Linked DNA regions of Homo sapiens. The protein of the gene in region 1 purifies or fractionates together with the protein of each later gene. This does not show direct contact. Each region holds a gene or a part of one and is shown in the gene's direction. Other genes may lie near its edges. The genes, in order: HLTF and SHPRH.

What was found.
Region 2: the proteins of HLTF (region 1) and SHPRH purify together in Homo sapiens (affinity purification with western blotting; 2 studies listed by BioGRID and IntAct, with this or other methods). This does not show direct contact.

The regions. Positions count from the first base shown.
Region 1 is NC_000003.12:149,040,208-149,051,777, reverse strand, and holds part of HLTF (helicase-like transcription factor), read left to right. Parts: intron 1-1,402; coding exon 1,403-1,546; intron 1,547-2,776; coding exon 2,777-2,915; intron 2,916-3,614; coding exon 3,615-3,750; intron 3,751-5,518; coding exon 5,519-5,698; intron 5,699-9,487; coding exon 9,488-9,612; intron 9,613-10,097; coding exon of another isoform or gene 10,098-10,109; coding exon 10,110-10,288; intron 10,289-11,570. UniProt on the Homo sapiens protein: Has both helicase and E3 ubiquitin ligase activities. Possesses intrinsic ATP-dependent nucleosome-remodeling activity; This activity may be required for transcriptional activation or repression of specific target promoters.
Region 2 is NC_000006.12:145,959,803-145,971,287, reverse strand, and holds the start of SHPRH (E3 ubiquitin-protein ligase SHPRH), read left to right. Parts: upstream 1-6,929; 5' UTR 6,930-7,557; intron 7,558-11,485. UniProt on the Homo sapiens protein: E3 ubiquitin-protein ligase involved in DNA repair.

The DNA.
Region 1 (11,570 bases):
ATGCCTTAGCCTCCCGAGTAGCTGGAATTATAGGTGCGCATCACCATCACCACCATGCCCAGCTAATTTTTGTATTTTTAGTAGAGGCAGGGTTTCGCCATGTTGGCTAGGCTGGTCTCGAACTCCTGACCTCAAGTGATCCACCCGCCTTGGCCTCCCAAAGTGCCGGGATTACAGGCATGAGCTACTGCACCTGGCCTGGAATATTTTTAATTATACCCCAGGCATCATGTGTTTTCTCCCAATAAAAACAAGTCTTCTCCTTACATACCGGTATTCTGTAGACTCTGTCCCTAACGTTTGCTCACTGTACATGCTCTCTTTAGGAAATTTCATTCATTCTTACAGCTGTAAATACTGTCTGTTGTTAACTTTAAAATTCATATCTACACCTCTCACTTCTATCTATAGGTAATTATTTACATTTTCCTAGTATACGTCTTCAGTTAGGTATTCTATAGTGACCAAAAATGATAAAGGTCTAAAATATTCATCTCTTTCTTACTTGGATGCCCACTTTTCCCTTCTTTTTTTTTTTTTTTAAACTTCCTTATATTTTTATCACACAATTCTAGGTAGTCATTCAAGTATCAGAGCATCTTAGTCTTATTATTATTATTCATATTTCATATTTCATTAGTCCCCAAGTCCTATCAGTCTTGTCTTAGTTTCTGTTTTTCACACCTGTCCTTTCCACCCTGTTCCTACTTCTACCTTGCTGGTTTAGGACTTCATCATCTCTCTCCTCATAGCTTCCCAGCTGTGTCTCCCTGGTATCTTCTCTTTTCAGTTTAATCAGACTATTTTTTTCTGCTGAAAATCTTCTAGGTCTGGTTTTTTTCATGATTAAAAAAATAATAATAAGTTTTTAAAACTGATCATGTCCTCAAGAAAGTCAGGGATGATTATTTGTTCTTCATTTTTAGTTACATCACTATTGTGGTTGATACCTGGCAAATAGTAGGCCAATAATAAATGAGTGAAAGAAAGTGGCTACAGTGCTTGAATCTCTGCCCACATCCTTGGAAATATTGGTTGTTGTTCTTTTACTGTTTAATTTTTATATTATTAAGTCTGCTAACTAATGCAGCATTAAAGGGCCTTCTAATTAAAATATTTTTATAAAACTCATTATTGTTTTCAATAACTTTGGTTTTTCCTCCTAAAAATGAAGCAGTTGCTGATTGGTAGGGCCAAGTAAATTTTAAATAATTTATTATTACTGTGTATGTGTCATTTTTCTTATTGTTATTATTTTGGTCTAGACTGAAGGAAACTTGATTTCATACAATTTTAGTAGTTGGATTTGTCACACTACTGCCAGGGCAGTTACTTTTTTATACATCTATTAAGTCTGACACAAATCTGCTCATTGTTAAAAATATTCCTAATTTTTCTTTAGGACCAGTTTGGACAACATATAAAATCAGATGTACACTTGAATTTTTATGTTTATTATGGTCCTGATCGTATTAGAGAACCGGCCTTACTTTCAAAACAGGATATTGTTTTGACTACGTATAATATTTTAACTCATGACTATGGAGTAAGTATTGTTGATACTTAACAGATCTTTTAAAGATTGAATGTAAGAAATATGCCACAGGTTTCTAGAGTGTTCCAAAATTCAGGCTTTATACTTTTTTTTTCTCTTTAGATACTTAACGATATATAGAAAAATAAATGGTTTTTTTTTTTGACTTTTTGCGTGAAAGGGTTGCATTTTATTTAGATGCTAATTTAGGAGTATTTTTCTTTTCTCCACTCCTCCCCTCCCCCTCCCTCTCGATGGAGTTTTGCTCTTGTTGCCCAGGCTGGAATATAATGGTGTGATCTCAGCTCACTGCAACCTCTGCCTCCTGGTTTCAGATGATTCTCCTGCCTCAGCCTCCCAAGTAGCTGGGATTACAGGCATGCATCACCACACTCAGCTAATTTTTGTTATTCAGCAGAGATGAGGTTTCACCATCTTGGTCAGGCTGGTCTTGAACTCCTGACCTCAGGTGATCCACCCACCTTGGCCTCCCAAAGTGCTGGGATTACAGGCGTGTGCCACCACACCCAGACAGGAATATTTTTCATTTAGAACATTTTAAGTTAAGATTTTAAATTTGGATTGTAAGTATATGAAGCAATTTGTAAATGAATTTTATTTTCTTTTTTAATATTCTGGAAAATTGTTTTCTATCACAATGATTTGATTAATATCTCAGTTTGAAGGTATGCTTTTTTTGTAGTTACAGTTCATAAGTTTTCCAGTTAGTCTAATTGTTTTTTACCTTTATAATTCCAATTGTTCAAAAGTTAAAACTTTTTGAAAAATACCTTGCTATCAAAATTTCAGTCTTCTAGTAAAAATATTACCTTTTATATAAAAGAAAGTAATGTTGAATTCAAGTAATTCTTACAACTGCCATTTTCTATATCATTGCTATGTTTTAATCCGAGGTAGAACAGTTCAGTGTATTGACCAGTGACTCAACAGAGAGCTAGACTGCTGCTTGGGTTTGAATGCTAGTTCTGCCACCTGTGGTGCTTTGGGTAACATACTTACTTAGCAGTTTGTGCTTCAGTTTTCTTATCTGTAAAATTAGGTGTGCTAATAAGTACTTATTTTATAAACTTGTGAGTATTCAATAATTAATGTAGTGCTTAAAGCAGTACCTAGCACATAGTAAATTTGATATTAAATAATGATAACAACTAGTTAGCAAATCATATTAAGTACTATTTTACTTTCCTGTGTTTTTTAATTCATATAAAACATTTATTTCAGACTAAAGGAGATAGTCCATTACATAGCATAAGGTGGCTAAGAGTGATCCTGGATGAAGGACATGCCATACGAAATCCAAATGCTCAGCAGACAAAAGCTGTACTTGACTTAGAATCAGAAAGAAGATGGGTTTTGACAGGTAATCATAGCATTAAACTTACTAAAACCTTAAATCTCTAAAATATATCATTATGTAAGTTAGTAAAGTAACTTTGTAAACTTAAAGTGGGTGTAAATTCTGCCCCAAAATTAATCATATAAATAATTTAATCAAATGTTTTGAGTTGTTCTTCATAATTGCCCGTGATATAACAACATTTGACTTATTGATAATTTATGGAACAGTCACTAGACTTATTCTTGAACCTTGGAAATGGAGTAGACACTCTAGTGGAAATGGAGTAGACACTCTAGTCATCCAGTCATAATCTTGATTTCTGTTTCCCATCCTCAAACCTGTTTGCCATTCACAGTACCTTTACTAGAAGGTAAGGAAAAGAATGTAAACTTAAACTAGTTGCTTTTTCCTTCTGCTAGTGCTGCTGCTTTAAAAACTAAATAAGCAGATGTACTTGATAAGGAGAAAGTTGAATTTTCCAGTCTTTTTCTTGGCTAGTGTGTCATGTGAGAGCTAAAAATTAGAGCAAAACTGTATCTTGAGATGTGTATATTTTTAATAAATGATTATAGTCAACACTTGATAGTTTAATTTAATTGATAATGATGAGCCTGGTACAGAGTGCCCATTTTCAATTGTTGTCTTCTCTGATTGGGCCAAATAGATACTCTTACTGGATACTCTGGTTAAAGAGTTATAACAGTTTCCTGTTATTTCTAGGTACTCCAATCCAGAATTCTTTAAAGGACTTGTGGTCTCTTCTTTCCTTTTTAAAACTTAAACCATTTATTGATAGAGAATGGTGGCATAGAACAATACAGCGTCCTGTCACAATGGGAGATGAAGGAGGACTTAGGTAAGTACTTTCAGACAGTGATTAATATTAGTTACAAATAACTGTTAGTAGCTTGAACCAGTTGGCACTTTCTTTACTATTTTAACTTGACTCTTAACTTTTCCTTCTAAAAAGTGTTTATGGCTCAGTACCTTTGTCTTTCAGAACCTAGTGATGCTTGTTTGGAAAGACAAAGATTTCTAATTGTCGATAACTACCCTTCCCCTGTTGTGGCTAAACTGAAAGGAAAGACATAACTGTTTTTTGTGTGTTGCTAAGCCCCAAAGCCCCAAAACCAGCATTAACAGATTTAGCAGGAAACATCGTATATCCTTTGAGGATCTAATATGCATTAAGTTTTCATATCTTATATAGCTTTATTTATTTATTTATGTATTTATTTATTTGAGATGGAGTCTTGCTCTGTCGTCCATGCTGGAGGGCAGTGGCGCGATCTTGGCTCACTGCAACCTCCGCCTCCTGGGTTCAAGCGATTCTCCTGTCTCAGCCTCCCAAGTAGCTGAGATTACAGGTCTGCGCCAGCATGCCCCGCTAATTTTTGTATTTTTAGTAGAGATGGGGTTTCGCCATGTTGGCCAGGCTAGTCTCAAACTTCTGACCTCAGGTTATCCTCTTGCCTCGACCTCCCAAAGTGCTGGGATTACAGGCATGAGCTACCACACCTGGCCTTACATAGCTTTATATAGTGAATGATGTGAGGTACCATGACCTTAGCAAAAGTTGTATAGGAAAGTTTTATGTGGTTGTTTCTGGTGGAGATAGATAAAAGTTGAGAACATAAATTAAAACTCAGTGATAGCCATTTTGCAAGATGTAATGTGGTTCAACTTTTTGGCTAAAGCACCGGTTTATAGACTGAAGATTTGAGAGCTATTAGTGGGATATAAAATCATTATAAAGGTGGTAGCCAGCATTTAAAAAGACAATGAAATAGAGAAGAGATTAGTAAATATCGGAGTGCATGATACATAGTAAGTATTATTTTGTGAAATATTTGTTTCTTTTGTATGTGTTTGTATATTTTTGCTGGATAGAATGTGTTTCTTACTGTGAGTTATAGTGAGAAAGCTTCAAGAGCCACTAACCTAGTTGGCAGTACTATCCACTTGATTCCTCAAAACCAACTATTTAAACTCCAGGAAATTGTATTTATATTTCAATGTTGGGAAAAAACAAGAATTGATACATCTCTTTTTTTCCAGTACTGAGAAAGAAATGTAAAGATTGTGGAACCTGTAAAGCATTTTTCTGTGTTCTGAATTACCATATTATCTTTTTATTTTGGGGGCACTCATTACTTTATACAATTACTTATTTATATACTTTTGATTTTAATATTACAGAATGTAGTATCTTACCCATATTTGTATTCTTACAACATTTAATTCAGTGCCTGGCACTTAATAGATACTTAGAATTTGAGTGTTGACTATTCGGTGATGGAGTTGACAGGACAGTTGAGAAGTAAAAGAGTTAGTGATTGGAACAAAAATGGGGAACAGAACTTACGAAAATAAGGACAGGATATAAAAAGATTAAACTATGTTAGGTATTGAGGGGAAATTTCCATACATTTGTTTTAATAATTTTATTTTTGTAGAATACTTCTGTGATTATCAGATTGGTTAAAATCCCAAATAAGGGATTTTAAAAACACTTTTACAGAAGCTATAAAACAGTAACAAATTAAAATGTTCTGTTTCGTTCTTCTTGGATCAATTTATGTAGAAATTAAAAGTTACATAATTATTTGTTTTATTCTGATTAGGCGTTTACAGTCCCTAATTAAAAATATTACACTTAGAAGAACAAAGACAAGCAAAATTAAAGGAAAACCTGTTTTGGAGTTACCAGAACGTAAAGTATTTATTCAGCACATTACACTTTCAGATGAAGAGAGAAAGATTTATCAGTCTGTGAAAAATGAAGGCAGAGCCACTATTGGAAGGTATGGAGAAAGAAAACCATGTTAAAAATTAGTTTTTGTTTACTTTGTTTCCCATTCACTGAATGACATTATTTAGATGTGTTAGCAATAGTTTGAAGTATACTGAAAGATAATTTGCTTCTATGAATTACAGTGTTTTTTACAAATCAATAAAGTGAATGAAATAATAGTATAATTCACCAGGTAAGTAATTTTTTAAGTTAGGAAATAATTTAAAGCTTACTTTAAATGACAAGTTCTCAATTGCTAGCCAGAAGATTTTGCTTGCTTCTATTTCCAAAATCGTATGGAAATCTGGAAATAGGAACTGATGAAATAGGTTTAACAAGAAGATTAAGGATTGGTAGAAGGTATGAAATTCTGGTCCAAGCAAGATCAGGTTTAATGTGAGCCCACAGGGAACAGAATGAATAAGAGACAAGTGAAAGCAGAATAGGACTGTGAAAGGGGAATCTTCAAAACATAAAAACTTCAGTGAGGTAGGTACAAAGCAGGTTTGATAGGAATTAGAGAGAGTGGGAAAGATTGTTCTAAGCAGCAGATTTCTGAGTTCAAAATCTTCTTTCTTTTCATATTCTTTCAACAAAAATTTATTAAGTGCCCACTGTGTGCCAGGCACTTATACCCATTGGGATACAGCAGAATAAAACAGACAAAAATGCCTGCACTCGAGGAATTTATATTTTAATGGGAAGAAACAGATAATTTAAAAACATGATTAAGTTTTAAGGAATAAAGCAACGAAAGGGGATGGGGAATGCCAAAGCTGTTTTAGTAGGGTATTAAGGAAGACCTCACTGAGAAGATGATATATAGGTAAAGATCTAAAGGAGATTGGGATTAAGGGGTGTTTCAGCCAGAAGGAAGAGCAAGTGTAGATGCTCCCAGTTGGGAACATGCCTGGTGAGCTTGAAGAATAACAGAGAAGCAAGTGTGGCTGGATAGTATGAACGAGAGAAAATAGTCATGATATCAGAGATTTATTGGAATGGGGGTATGTAACGCATATGTCAAGGACTTTGGCTTTTACTTTTTATGACAGGAAACCTTAAAGGGTTTTGAGCCAGGAGAGGGACGTAATCTGATTTATATTTTTAAAAGATCACTCTGGCTGCTGTGCTCAGATTTAGGTTATTTGAATAGGAATAAGGTCAGAAGTAGGGAGACCAGTGGCAGTCAAAGCAAGAGATGATGGTGGTTTTTACCATAGTAGTGATAAAGGGAGTGAGAAATGATTAGATTCTGTTAAATTGTGAACGTAGAACCAACAGAACTTGCTGGTTGATATGTTATGGCATGTGAAAGAGGAATCAAAGATAACTTCAAGCCTTTTTACCTGCATAAGTGGAAGGCTGGAATTGCTGTTTACCAAGACAGGTCTATGGGAAGAGCAGAGATTTTTTTAAGCTAAGATCAGAAGCTCAGTTTTGGACACATTGATCATAGGATGCCCGTGAATTTTCCAAGTAGAGATATCAAATAATTAGTTGGATAGGAGAGTCGAGTTCAAAGTCAGCTATGTGTGGATGGTAATTAAAGCCATGAGATCACCAAGGGAGTGAGTAAAGTGAAAGAGATCTAACTGTGAAGATAGCAATGGCTGGTGAAATAGGAGGAAGGAAGCTTCTAATATTTAGCACATGGTAGGCACTCAAAAGAGATCTCTTAAATTGAAATGCTGAGTATCAGTAAGATATGACCATGCCAGGGAATAATTAGTGTTAGTAAAGGTTATTCTATTTGAAAAAGTTGAAAAAGATTAACTTTATTGAAACTGTTCTCAGAAAATAAGTTATTTTTAAAGTATTCTTTTTAATAGGCTATATATTTACTAACATTTATTTAGCACTCACTAGGTGTTATACATTGATCTTAGTGCTTTAAATGTATTCACAGCAATCCTATTAGGTCAGTATAATTATCCACATCTTATAAGTGAGGAAACTGAGGCACAGAGCAGTTTAGGTGACTTACACTGTTGTCACACAGCTAGTGAGTGACAGGACAGATTAACTCTGGCACTTTGGTTTAGAGCTTGTAAGTTTAATCTTTGTATTATTTTGCCTATTCCTTGCATTCTTGAATATTCAGAAATGTTTGTTGCCATAATACTACCAGTACTAATACTAGCAACAGATTCATGTATAGCACTTAATATAGTCCAGGCACTATTTTAAATACTTTACATGTATTAAATTAAATAACAGTAGTTGTATGAGGTAGGTACTTTTACAATGCCACTGTTAGAACTGAGGAAGCTCAAGACATAGGTTAAGCAACCTGTCCAAGGTTACATAATTAAATTGGCACAGCCAGGTTTTGAATTCATGACCAGCTAGCTCTAAAAATTTGTACTCTTAGCCGTTAGGCTATATTTCTTCTGTTGCCTTAAAATACTTAAATATCAGATGGCCTGGTTATATAATTTTTGGATCACCCATTTCCTTAAGAATCTATGTTGTCATTGTACCACTGTATTTTGTATAGAATGTTTCTGTGGGGAAGCCTGGTTTTTTTTTTTTTTTTTTTTTTCCCTCTGAAGTTCAGCAACTTCTTTGTTGACTTTCCCCTGGGACATGTGATATTATTTAAATCTTTAGATTCCAGGCTTTTCCCCCCTTCTCTTTCCTGGAAAGCTTTCTTTAAATATTGTTTTCTGTTCCATTATTTTATTTCTCTCTGTGTATGTTAGATGTCTTTTATCTGTGTTCCATAGGTATCATTTTATTTCTGATCTTTTACATTTTTTTGTTTAATTTTGATTTTCTCAGTCCTGTTTCCTACATCCTTTTCTATGTTTTTATCAGTGACTAGTCTTTTTTTATATTGGCTTATATTGGTTTCAGTGTGACTTTCATTTCTCTGATGATTCACTGTTTTCTTTCACTTTCTTGAGCCATACCAGCTCATCTTTCATCTCTTCCTGTTCTCTTGCCATATTTTTTCAAAGCTCTTTGTCTTTGCTTTAAGATTTTTTTTTTTTGGAGGAATTGTTTTATTGAGTGGTGTTAAATTGTGACAGTATCCTTGGTCATAATTTTTATTTGCTCTGTGGCAACATTTTTCTGCTGAGTTTTCTTTCACTGCCATGTGTCCCCTACCTTTGCTCTCTGCTGATTATTACTTATATTTGAATATCTTGAGTTCTTCTTGGACTAGCTATTTGCTAGTCCAGATATACAAAAGGGAAAGGTCACAATCATGTCCCCGACCAGCAGGAAATAACCCAATTTACTTAAGACTCAGGGTTACATGTTGAGTTACTTTAGGTTTTATTAGTACACATAAACAGAGATCAGAAACTTTAGGGGTGCTTGGAGTGTAGAGTGCTGTGCCCATAGTCTTTTTTTGAAAATACAGTGCACCTGTATGTTTCTGTATTCAGTTTACCTTCCCTCTTTTTTTGATATAAATTTCTCCATGGAAGCTCAAGTCACCAAGCATGCACCCTGTTCCTGTTTCTGCACATGAGAGGTATTGATTTTCCCCTCAGGGCATGCCATCCATTTTAAAGAATTGTGTTTTGGCAGCTCTGTTTGAGATCTGCAGTCATCCCTCTCAGCATCTTCCTATCTGACTTAGACTGCAATTGGCAGCCATTTCTCATATATTGTGCCTTATTGTTATAGATCTCTCTTGGTTTTATTAGAGTTGCTTTTCTGCTTTTCATTCTTGTTTTGGAGTAATTTCTAGAGAAGAAAAGAAAAATGCCATTTTACTCTGCTGTTTTAGAATAGGAAGTTATTATTGTTTAGCGGACTTAATAATATTTGACATTTTAATCTCTAGGTATTTTAATGAAGGGACTGTCCTGGCACATTATGCAGATGTCCTGGGTCTTTTGCTTAGACTGCGGCAAATTTGTTGCCATACTTACCTTCTTACAAATGCAGTGTCTTCCAATGGCCCCTCAGGTAGGTAAATTTGATTGCTTCATATCATTGTATTTGTCAGAGATACTTAAATAAGAGTGATAAATTTTTTTTATGTGGCATACATTTAGTTTATTTTGTTCTGTCAAATGGAGATTGCTTTTAGTGTGAGACTCAGCTAGGAATACATCCAATAATTTTTTTACCAATGAAATGGAATTATAATGAGGTCTTTCCAGGAATTCCGGTGATAGATACCCTTTGATGAAAGATTCATATTGGATCTGCCTTTTATTGTGTGGTGGTATGTTATTGTCATGTTATAATGATGCTTCTCTATGAGGTATATTATGTGAGTTGGCTACTATTTTGGCTTCTGAATGTTTCTTAAATTTCAAATTTAAATTATGCTTTTTGCCTATGGCAGAAAATGATGAGAGACTTTCCCTACTGGCAAGCGAAACTTTTCCTTATAAGATAGATTAACTTGTCATATTACAAACCTTGCTCTGAAATTAATTTTTCAGCCTTTTCTCTAGGAAATGATACACCTGAAGAACTGAGAAAGAAGTTAATAAGGAAGATGAAGTTAATTCTGAGCTCAGGTTCAGATGAGGAATGTGCAATTTGCCTGGATTCTTTAACAGTTCCTGTGATAACACATTGTGCACATGTATTTTGTAAACCCTGTATTTGCCAAGTCATTCAGAATGAGCAGGTTAGTTTTTTGCTCAGTACAGGTTCAGTGTTTGATAGAGTAGTGTACCTGTCTTTAATATAATAAAAGATAGTATATGGAGTTTTGCACTTGGATTTAATAATATACCTTTGATAGTTAATTATTCCAGTATTTTAATAGGTGATATATTTCTTCTAATGCAACATTTGCAACATAAAAAGATGTTCACAGTCAATATCTTAATTCCGCTGTTTATATCATTGCTGTTCAATAAATGGATTGATAATGTGAGACACAAAGATAATTTTCAGTTTTCTAGTAGTCATACTCTTAAGTAAAAAGAAACATTAAGCTAATTTTAATACATTTGTATTTAACCCAATATATCTAAAATATAAAAAGTATTAATGTGCTTTTTACAAAAAACTAAATCTTCAGAATTTGGTGGTGGTGTATACTTACAGCACACCTCAATTTGGCTTAGCCACATTTCAAGGACGTAATTGCCCCATGTGATTATTGGCTATTGTGTTGGATAAGGTAGGTCTAGATTCTTTTGTGTGGTAGAATTTTTTTGAAGTTGACTAGTCTGTTAAGCAGTCATTCAGCTGGGGTAGAATTTTTTTAAACATTTTAAATTGATATATAACATATGTAGAAAAAATGTATAAATTCATAATTAAATAGCTCAGTCAATTATGAGGTAAACATATTCCTGTATCTGCTGCCTAGGTCCCCTTGTGGCCCCTCCCAACCATTTACCCTCTCCCTCTTCCCCAAAAGTAACCCCACTGTATTGACTTTTAAATAATTTTAGCTTCAGAATTATTTAATTGTAATGGTGTTTTATATATAGTTATTTAAGATATAATCTTATTTTATTAACAGGTTCAAACGGGTACAACAGATGTTGCTTTGGAATGAACTTGATAGGATTTAACAGATCCTAGTAGCTTTATAAGCTATTATAAGCTTTATAAGCTTAATAGCTTTATAAGCCATTAAGATGGATTTTTTTTTAAAGAATAGTACTAAATAGTGTAGCTGTATTGTATTTAGGTTCAATAAATTGTTATTCATAGATTTTTTTTTTAAACTTGCTTACAATGTTATAATTTTTGGTTTCTTGCTCTTGCTTCTAGCTAGTCCAGATCACATACTTTTGCTCCCTCCTTTATCCGTTCTACTTACCACATTATGTCTGGAGTTCAGCATGTTCAGATGTCTCTTAAATGGATGAAATCCATTAAAAGGTTTAATAAAATGTTAGCTATGAGAGATACAGATTTTAGCATACATTTAAAAATTTTTAGGCATATTT
Region 2 (11,485 bases), on another chromosome or scaffold:
AATTCAAGATGGATTAAAGACTTAAATGTTAGACCTAAAACCATAAAAACCCTAGAAGAAAACCTATGCAATACTATTCAGGACATAGGCATGGGCGAGGACTTCATGTCTAAAACACCAAAAGCGATGGCAACAAAAGCCAAAATTGACAAATGGGATCTAATTAAACTAAAGAGCTTCTGCACAGCAAAAGAAACTACCATCAGAGTGAACAGGCAACCTACAGAATGGGAGAAAATTTTTGCAACCTACTCATCTGACAAAGGGCTAATATCCAGAATGTACAATGAACTCAAACAAATTTACAAGAAAAAAAAAAACAACCCCATCAAAAAGTGGTCAAAGGATATGAACAGACACTTCTCAAAAGTAGACATTTATGCAGCCAAAAGACACATGAAAAAATGCTCATCATCACTGGCCATCAGAGAAATGCAGATGAAAACCACAATGAGATGCCATCTCACACCAGTTAGAATGGCAATCATTAAAAAGTCAGGAAATAACAGGTGCTGGAGAGCATGTGGAGAAATAGGAACACTTTTACACTGTTGGTGGGACTGTAAACTAGTTCAACCCTTGTGGAAGTCAGTGTGGCGATTCCTCAGGGATCTAGAACTAGAAATACCATTTGACCCAGCCATCCCATTACTGGATGTATACCCAAAGGATTATAAAACATGCTGCTATAAAGACACATGCACATGTATGTTTATTGCAGCACTATTCACAATAGCAAAGACTTGGACCCAACCTAAATGTCCAACAATGGTAGACTGGATTAAGAAAATGTGGCACATATATACCATGGAATACTATGCAGCCATAAAAAATGATGAGCTCATGTCCTTTGTAGGGACATGGATGAAGCTGGAAACCATCATTCTCAGCAAACTATCACAAGGACAAAAAACCAAACACCGCATGTTCTCACTCATAGGTGGGAAGTGAACAATGAGAACACATGGACACAGGAAGGGGAACATCCCACACTGGGGCCTGTTGTGGGGTGGGGGGAGGGGGGAGGGGGGAGGCATAGCATTAGGAGATATACCTAATGTTAAATGAAGAGTTAATGGGTGCAGGAGACCAACATGGCACATGTATACATATGTAACAAAACTGCACGTTGTGCACATGTACCCTAAAACTTAAAGTATAATAAATTTATATATATACATCAAAAAAAAAAGATTTCTTGAGGTCTTAGATGCATTCTGAAAGTGCTATCCACTATTTTTGTACTTCAAAATGACACGATTGTGACCCTTGAAATACTCAGAGAATATTTTACTTGTAGATCTCAAAACTGCATAATAAATATTACTCAGAGTCATAAGTATCGACAGAGTCGTCGACAATATTCCTATTCTTTAATGCCTAACACCATACTGACAAGATTAATTGAAAAAATATGCCTTAGGGGAAAATGTAACAGTTGGGTATGGAGGGTGGGGAGGCTCTGGGATGGTGGGAAGGAGAGCCTATGATACAGATTATACTATCTTCATTGTTAAACACTGAATATAATCTCCTATCTTTCCTTACCAGCAGATTCACCTTCAACCTTCTTGCTTTTACCTAATTTAAATCGTTGCTTTATTCACACCTAAAACAAACACTGTCATAGGTTCATGTCCATTGCAGCATTTTGTGTACAGACTACAAGTTTTGCTTTAGAAGTTATGAGAGGCAGAAGGAACACAGCTTGAGGTTTTAGTTTTCAGGCTGAGCTTGCAGCAGGGGAGACCGAACAAACTTTGGGCTTGAAACCAATCCAACTTGTAAATCATCAAGGAAAAATGAAACAAAATTAACAATTAAATCTACCCAGGTCTAGTCTAGGGAAAAGCTGTAAAGTTCTAAATATGAGGATTTGGGTTCAATTCGCACACCTCCTGTCCCTGATATATCCTGCTCATGCTCCTGCAAAGCATGTCCGACCCTTGGTACCATTTTATGTTTGGTTGATCTGATACCACTCCTTTCAGCATAGCTGATGACCCCTGCTAGCACCAATTTTCCAAGACCATGTTTCTTCTTCCCACTCTTTTTTTGGTACTACATGCATTCTACCAGTGGTTTTGGACGTTGTAATTCATTCCAGAATAGCGGAGACTTTGATCCTAATATTTTCAATTTGTCAGAAGGGAAAGCAGTCCCAAGACAGGTTGGTAGTAGGAATTGGCAACAAGGAGTCATCTTTGGGAATCCCCAATCATACTGGGTGGGCCACCTACTTTGTTTCCAGAGAGCTGGCAAAGGTAGGTAGAATACAGAATAAATTTCTCTAGTCATTTTGTTAATGATCTATTCAGGAGAACACAGTGTTTGTACTGAATGATCCTTATTGTTGATATACAAGCCCTATGTCATTAAGTAATGACACACCTCTTGCCTTCAGTTTGCCCATGATTACTTAGTAAGTTTGAGGACTAAGTTGTATATTTTTATTTGATAGACAACATGATTTAGTAATAAGAGACAATAGCCTAGACAGAGGAATAAAGAGTTTTAGGTCCTCTTGTTCTCTTACAGCTAAATTGTGGCAAATTACCAAATTTCTGAGTCTCAGATTGCTCTCCTGTAAAATGGAAATTTTAAAAGCCTATTACTAGTCTAGGGATCAAATAAAAAAATAAACATAAAAGGGCTTTGCAAAATATAAAGTTCTTCACTGATAAATCATCATTTATCTTGTTTCTGTCCCTAAAGGGAGTTAAATTTGTCTTAACTCCTCTACTCCCTCTCAACTAGTCCTCCTCCTTGAGAACAACTTAGAATATTCATTTGTAAAATAGATGCCCCAGTTAGGGGTATGGCTAGAATAAAGCCACTGTCCCTAAAAGAAAATGAACCTACAGCTAAAGCTAGTGAGACCATACAAGGAAGAAAGTGGTCTGACTGATCTCATGTTATAGTTTCAAGAAGGAGCAGATGAACTCCGTGAACACTGAGTTATTCACTGTCAAGATGCACGATGTCCAATCAGTTCATTCTGATTTGCGGAATGTCATTAGATCACTAGCATCTAATAGGTGGATGAACTCAGTGTACTCAGGGGTGAACAGGTGTCTCACAGCTGGGAGCTGCCAGAGAGCCAAGGTGCAATCATGAACCATGTTTTCTGAAATTAGCTCTGATGAAAAATATTATTCCAGAGAGAAATTTTTCAAAGAATAGGCAGAGCATTTGGTAAATATAGGATTGAACACTGGAAAATTTAAAAGAATTTTGTTTCATTCTAATCACTGAATGGTAGTATACAGAATTCCATCTCTACAGTTGAAATTGCATCTCCATACGACAGACAACTGGATCTGAAGTTTAATATCTTGCATGGACATTACCATGATTACATATATAAATTACCCCAATCAAGGTGAACAAAGGTGAAATGATGCTGTGCTTATTTTTAAATATTTCTGCCTAGCACTAGTTGGATAGACTCAGCCAAACTTTGGGCCTAATTATCTGCTCCAATGATGAGAAGTGACATAAAACTATCAAAGATAACCTTACTCAGCACATCATATGTTTAAATAGCAAGTTGCAAATTACACTTTCAGAAGCAAGGTTACATCACCTTGTATTTGATAAAATGATTGGTTTGCCAAGGAAGGAGGATCCTACTTGCCCACTGTTCCAGCATTAGCACTACTTTTTCCAGCTTGCCTCATAAATCCTGGAATAAGGTAACTGATTTCCATCTATAGGCATACCTTGGAGATATCACAAGTTTTGTTCCAGGCTACCACAATAAGGCAAATATTGCAATAAAGTAAGTCACAGGATATTTTTTTTGTTTCCCAGTGCATATAAAAGTGACACTGACACTACAATGTAGTGTGTTAAGTGTGCAATAGCATTATGTCTAAAAAAAGTATCTACCTTAACTTAAAAAATATTGTATTGCTAAAAAAAATCTTGCTTAAAAAATATTGCTTAAAAAAGTTGGCTGCAGCAATTGACTCTTTATTTCACAAAATATTCCTCCATGATATGAACTGCTCTTTGATAGCATTTTACCAACAGTAGAACTTCTTTCAAAACTCAAGTCAATCCCCTTAAACTCTGGACTGCTTTGTCCACTAAATTTATGAAATATTTTAAAATCTTTGCTGTCATTTCAACAACGTTCACAGTATCTTCCCAGGAGTATATTCCATCTCAGGAAACCAGTTTCTTGGCTTATCTATAAGAAGTAACTCTTCATCCATTAAAGTTTTACTATGAGATTGCAGCAGTTCTGTCATATCTTCAGACCCCACTTCTAATTCTAGCTCTCTTGCTGTTTCCACCACATCTGCAGTTACTTCCTCCATTGAAGTCTCAATCCCTTCAAAGCTGAGACTTTGAGTTCCTGAGAGATGGAATCAACTTCTTCTAAACTACTATTAATGATATTTTGACCTCTCCCACCAATCTCAAATGTTGTTAATGACATACAGAATGGTGGATGTTTTCCAGAAGTTTTTAATTTACTTTGTCTAGATCTATCAGAAGAATTCCTATCTATGTCATCCATAGCCTTATTACTTCTTAAATAATAAGATGTCAAAGTTAAAATTACTCTTGATCCATGGGCTGCAGAATGGGTTTTGTGTTAACAGGCATGAAAACAACATTAATCTCCTTGTACATCTCCATCAGAGCTCTTGGGTGACCAGGTGCATTATAAATGAGCAGTAATATTTTGAAAGGAATCTTTTTTTTTTCTGAGCAGTAGGTCTGAACAGTGGGCTTAAAATATCCTGTACATCTATGCTGTTAAGTAGATGTGCTGTCATCCACACTTCATTGTTCCATTTATAGAGTACAGACAGAATAGATTTAGCATAACTCTTTAGGGCCCTAGGAGTTTCAGAATGATAAATGAGTATTGGCCTCAAATTCAAGTCATTAGCTGCATTAGCCCCTAACAAGAGAGTCAACCTGTCCTGTGAAGCTTAGAAGCTATGAAAGTCCTAGATGGCCTTTTCTTTCTATAGAAAGCTGTCTTATCTACATGGAAAATCTGTTGTTTTGTGTGGCCACCTGCTTCAATTATTTTAGCTAGATCTTCTGAAAAACTTGCCACAGCTTCTACATCAGCACTTGCTCCTTCACCTTGTACTTTGATGTTATGGAGATGGCTTCTTTTCTTAAATCTCATGAACCAACCTCTGCTTGCTTCACATTTTTCTGCTACAGCTTCATCACCTCTCTCAGCCTTCACAGAACTGAAAAAAGTTAGGGCCTTGCTCTGGATTAGGCTTTGGCTTAAGGGAATGCTGAGGCTGGTTTTATCTTTTATTCAGGCCACTAAAACTTTTTCCATATCAGCATGAGGCTGTTTCGTTTTCTTATCATTTGTGTTTTCATTGGAGTAGCACTTTTAATTCCCTTCTAGAACTTTTCCTTTGCATTCACAACTTAGCTAACTTTGGTACAAGAGGCCTAGCTTTTGGCTTATCTCAGCTTTTGACATGGCTTCCTCACTAAATTCCTTCGGTTTTCGATTTAAAGTGAGAGATGTGCCACCCTTCCTTTTACTTGAACACTTAATAGTCCATTGTAGGGTTATTAATTGGCCTAATTTCAATATTGTTGTGTCTCAAAGAATAGGGAGGCCTGAAGAGAGGAAGAGAGACAGGCGCCAATAGTGAAGCTTTCAGAACACACACAACATTTATTAAGTTTAGCATCTTCTATGAGCAGAGTTTGTAATGCTCCCAAAAAACTACAATAGTAACATCAAAGATAACTAATCATAGATCACCATAACAGATGAACAGCAAGTGAACACATGCTGCTTGAAAAATGATGCTGACAGACTTGCTTGAGTAAGGTTGCCAAAAAACTTCAATTTATAGGAAAACATATTATCTGCAAAGTACAATAAAGGGAAGCAAAATAAAAGGAGGCGGGGATTTGCTTATGGAAACAGCTTCGTATCTGTGATAAAGGAATATACTAAGTAAAATATGGACTACCCTGGACTGTCTAACACAACTACAACCGATATTCACTTGGACAAGAACTTAGTTCAAGTGCTTCTGTGGTCACACAACCCAAAAGGCCTCCACAGCAGAAAAGCTGCTATTAGGTACTCACTAACTAAGTACTGAGTCCCCAGTGTTTCCTGAGGGTTATTTCACAGGCTCCTGACCCTGAAGCCTCTCAGAGTTATTCCAACATTAAGGTCACTTCTATGAGGAAGAGGTGAGAGGAAAAAAGACCAATAGTGGAAGGCCAGCTTCAGCGCAACACATGTATTTAATAGTTTCTCTCATCTTTGAATATTTATTCACATTTCCCTTTAAAGTCTGTTTTTGAGGGGGAGAAGCTTTATTCGTACCTACTTAGTGGCTGCTTTATAGCAGTAAAATAGATGCTTTTGCAGAATTCTTTTCTGCTTTTCTTTTGTGAGACGGAGTCTCATTCTATCACCCAGTGGGGAGATGTCGGCTTACTCAATCTCTGCCTCGCAGGTTCAAGCATTCTCCTGCTTCAGCCTCCCGAGCAGCTGGGACTACAGGCGGGTACTACAGGCGCGCACCACAACGCCCGGCTAATTTTTGTATTTTTAGTAGAGACGGGGTTTCGCTATCTTGGCCAGGCTGTTCTCCAACTCCTGACCTCAGGAAATCCGCCCGCCTCGGCCTCCCAAAGTGGTGGGATTACAGGCGTGAGCCACCGCTCCTGGCCCCTGCCTTTTTATTAGAGATACAAATCACACACGCCCTTCGCTTCAAGGGGAGCCCCGCCCCCTACTTCGGGCATTCGGCCATCCTGTGTTCTCTAATGGCGTGGGGCAGAGCTATCGCGAGACTCCACTGTATCCTCAGCAAGTTTTTAACAGTGTGAACTTGCGCAGAAGAGACTCATGAAGCCAGCGCAGGAGAAAGGGGGCGGGGTGCTCTGACGAGCGCGTTCGCCTTGACCCCACGCTACAGCGCGCGCCCGGCAGCTAGGCGCTGTGGTTTCTGGGTCTCCCGGGGGACCCCTACACGTTCCGGCAAAAAGCGCTCGTGCCCACCTCAAGCCCATGTTCGGTGGGTGGCGAATGCGTGCCCGTGATCTGCTGGGTCTGTAGAGGAGCGCAGGCCTGGTGCAAACAGACTCAAGAGGCTCGGAGAACCAGCTTGGGTAGGCGCTTGGGTGATGGAAGGTCAGGGGTCAGAGGTCGGGAGGGAGGGAGGGAGGTGGTCTTTGGCCTCCGGGACCAGGGAGGGAGGACGCTGGTTGTCCTGGAGCCCGGGAAGCTCAAGGGCTGAGAGGGAGCCGCTGCGCGAGTCTTCCCCACCTCTTCCCGATCCCGGACTAGCGAACTTCGGACCACCACGTCCCTCCGGGGATAAAGTGGGGTCGTGGGAAAGGAGGCTGTGCTTCTCCTCATGCACTGGGGCCTGCGGTGTTTGTCTCGAGCGTCCAACACACTAGGATCCGGGAGTCCGTCGTCACGCTCCTTGGCCTCGCGGTCGCTTGTTTGCTCGGCCTGCTGGGAGCGATCCGGCGCTGACAGCCCCGCTCAGACTCCGGGAGCCGCTTGTGGGTCTTTCGGAAGATAACTGAGTGGGTACCGTGCGCCGCAGATCTACCCCCGGAGGCTGGAACTGGGTCGCCGCCTCCCTTCTTTGTGCGCGGCATTGTATTAGTAAAAGGGGAGGCAGAGGTTTCTCAGTCCCACTCAAAGTTCTCCGTTACCTTTGGAGCCAGATTAATTACATTCGAATTCAGAACCACTCTTTGACATTGTACAGTTTGACTGGTAGTTGCTATGTTTATGAACGAAGATAGGGTGTTATTTGATGATTAATAGTCACTGTATAATGATCAGTTAAATAATGACCAGGAAGCTTGTGCCCTTTTTCCAAGTAGTTTGACATTAGCACGAGGTAGAAATCCGAGATGTTTGATGCCTTCCAACTTGTACTTAAGGAACTTAAGGAACTTGGGGCTTTTTCTGAACAAAATAAGATAAAGTTATTACTGTTACTTTAAATTATTCCAGTGGGCATTAGTAGGAATGATGAAACTCTTGAATAGAAACGATCCATGATATCTCTACTGTCACAAAAAAGACTATTTAGTTTATGATTAGTAAACATGCTGGAGACAGAGCAGTCCTGAGCAGTATTGTAATGATTATGTCTGTGCTCGATAACCTGCACTTTCTAGAGCTTTAAAGGACCAGTTAACCAGTAAGCTGGCAATTGAGAATAAAATAGTTTACTTTTGAGAGATGCTCTTGTATATCCTCTTTGTCCACCCGAAAGGAGCTGGACTTACAGAATTATTAAAACAAAACTTTTATTATTAAGAGTTTAGGCCAGTAAGATTTAGGGGAAACAATTTGCTGGTGAAAAAGCTTCTTATGAGGGCATTTTTAAAGTTTATGTAACTAGCATATTTTAGCATTCAGTAGAAGAAAATACTCTCACCTTGCTGGAATTATTTCTACAGAAAAGGAAAAGATTATGTTAACCCTGGGTCATTAAGAGCTTCCTAGTACTTAGTAATGAGTGGGCTTCATTTCCATAACACAACATTTTGGACAGGAATATGGCAAGTATGTAATCCTTTTTGCCCTTAATAGCCTAAACCCAGATCTACCATGGATTTGTTGTAATTCAAGATTTGTGTGTATCTTTTAAAGAGGAAATAATATTTTGGAGGGAAAAAATGTGAATTTAAGTTGTGTTATTCATTTGTTGGATTGTCTTAGTAATGTAACATTTTATGTTTATTTTTCTAGCATTCCATCCTTGTTTTCTGTTAAAGATACAGTTCAGGCAGTTTTCCCTGCCTCGTTCTAGTATTTCATTTTTCTCAGAAATACTAGTTTCATATTACCTATAGTCTTCTAGAATGTGGATAAGAGAGACTTCTCCAAAAAGAAATAAGAGTAAAGTATCGTTAGGTCCTCAAAAGGAGGGAATACATCCACGGAATTAGAGATCTTTGTTTCACCCTTTTTGTATGTCTTTACTTCCTAGCACTGACCTGGCATTGGGAGTACAACACTGAATAGGATACTACTCCTGCCCATCTTTCAAAGTGAACACTCTAGCAGTTGGGATCGAGGAGAGAGAGGCCCTTAACTCAGCTTCTCTAGTCATGGAAGCCTTTCCAGGGAAGATTGGGATGGAGACAGGCATAAAAGCAATTCAAGCAAAAGGCTTTTATATTTAAATACAAGACAGTAAAAGTGCGGTCCATATAGAAAACTTCACATAATTACGTTTTACCCAAACACTGCTAATTAAGGAGGAGGAAGAAGTAGTTGTGACTGATAAGGTATGAATAAAACCAGAAGAATATGGGATGTGGTTAGATACAGAATTTCACCAGTACTTGACTTACTAGTTGCCAAATTGCATTTTAGTCATAAGTATATTTGACCAAATACTATTTTCTTTGGTTCAAGAAGTTAACCCTGAATAGAGATTTCCTTAAGTAAAGACTCAGTCAAAACCAGGAGCTTTTTGTTTGGTTGGTTGATTTTTGATCATGAATGTTTACTCAGTTAAGAACTGGACAAAGGGAGAGCATTGCTAGAAATTCTGGTGTTGACTTTTCTGCAGTTTATCATTATCACTGATAAGTACCTTGAGGCACTAATATTGGAAGAATCAGGCTGAAAGAATACATCTGAAGGAATGTGCAAATTATAATGGTGTACATAATTTAAAAGATACTGGATAGGTTTTACCAGAGAACAGAATAAATAGTTGAAGTAATGTTTTCTGGTTTGGTAATATGTCTGTTACAAAATTATTGTGGGAAACATGGCACATATTACTTCTCACATTCCATTGGCTAGGACTGGTCACAGGACCAAACCAAGCTGGGCAGTCATTTCTCAACTACTCTATACTTTGAGTGGAAATAAGTGGATTTTAGTTGGCAGCTGGTTATCCATAACAAGGTTTTTTGAACTTGGCTGCACCCTGGAATTTTTTAGGGATTCTAAAAAATAAAGGGAGTAGTGCCTGGGCCCTTCTCCAAGACATTCTGACTTAGTTGGCTCGACATCAGGATTTTTTTAAGTTCCCCTGGTGATTCTAATGTGCAGTCAAGTTTGAGAAGCACTAATCTGTGGTCCCCCATCCTGCGACATTACAGTTTGGTTATTGTGAAATGTGGTTTAGAGCAGGGGTCCCCACCCCTCAGGCCATGGACCGGTGCCAGTCCGTGGCCTGTTAGAACCGGGCTGCATTGCAGGAGGTGAGTTGCGGGCAAGCGAGCATTACCACCTGAGCTGTGCCTCCTGTCAGATCAACAGTCAGTAGATTACCATAAGAGCATGAATGCTATCGTGAACTGCATATGCGCAGGATCTAGGTTGTGCACTTCTTATTAAAACCTAATGCCTGATGATCTAAGGTGGAATAGTTTCATCCCTAAACAACCCCCTCTCCACTCCACCCCTCTCCTCCGGTCCATGGAAAACTTGTCTTCCATGAAACCCATTTATGGTACCAAAAAGGTTGGGAACTGCTGGTTTAGAGTGTTCTCAGGATGATGATAAGTAGCAACTACCATTTATGGAATACAGGCCAAATTTCTAGTACTGCTGTTGTACTTAAATTATTTCTAACCACAATCCTGCTATCATCCCCATTTTAGAGATGAGAAAATTGGCACAGAAGACTGGATAACTATTCCAATGCCACACAGTCAGTAAATGCCAAAGCTGGAATTAGAATGAATATAAGACTTCAAAGCATTGCATTCTCACCTTTAAGCCACATCGCTTTGCTAATGTGAGACTCTGCTAGACAGTTGCTTTTTGGGTTTTCAGAGTTAATGATTCCACAATAACCATGTTATTAATATTATTATGGTTAGTGTGATACATTGTGTAACTGGCCCAATTCCCTTCCAACACTCCCTCTACCCTTCCACCCCCCATATCCATGCTCTTTGCCATGTGCAGTTTCACCTAGTAAAGAGGTGTAGTATATTTCTTCACCACTTGACATTGGGTCCATGGATATGTCTTGCTTTGGTCTGTGGCACCTTAGTGGTTTTTAAGCACTTTGAAAACTACTTGTGTGATTGGATTTGCAGTAATACACCTCAACCATTGCCATAAAGAACATTCCTGAGTTACTTTGCTGATCCAAGGAGAGGGGATAGGAACTACATTAAGCAGAGCCAAACTGCTTTTCCAGAAACCTAGCCTAGATTAGCCTCCTTCAGCTAATGTGCAGATCTATGAGAATAAATGATTGCTATATCAAGGTATTGAGCTTTGAGGTAGTGTGTTACACAGCATGTTTGTGGCAGTAGTTAACTGATAAGCTACTATAGCATAACTTTTTAAAGTTCCTGCAGAGTGACCCACTTTCAGTATTCCAGCTTATGCTTTGAGGAAAACTGGACAAACATAAACACTTAGGAAATTAAGAGCTTTCTATATTATTCCACTAAGATAAGAGAGGATAAGATGCTTTAAAAGTAGTTGACCATAGCCAAGGATTGATTTTAATCCATC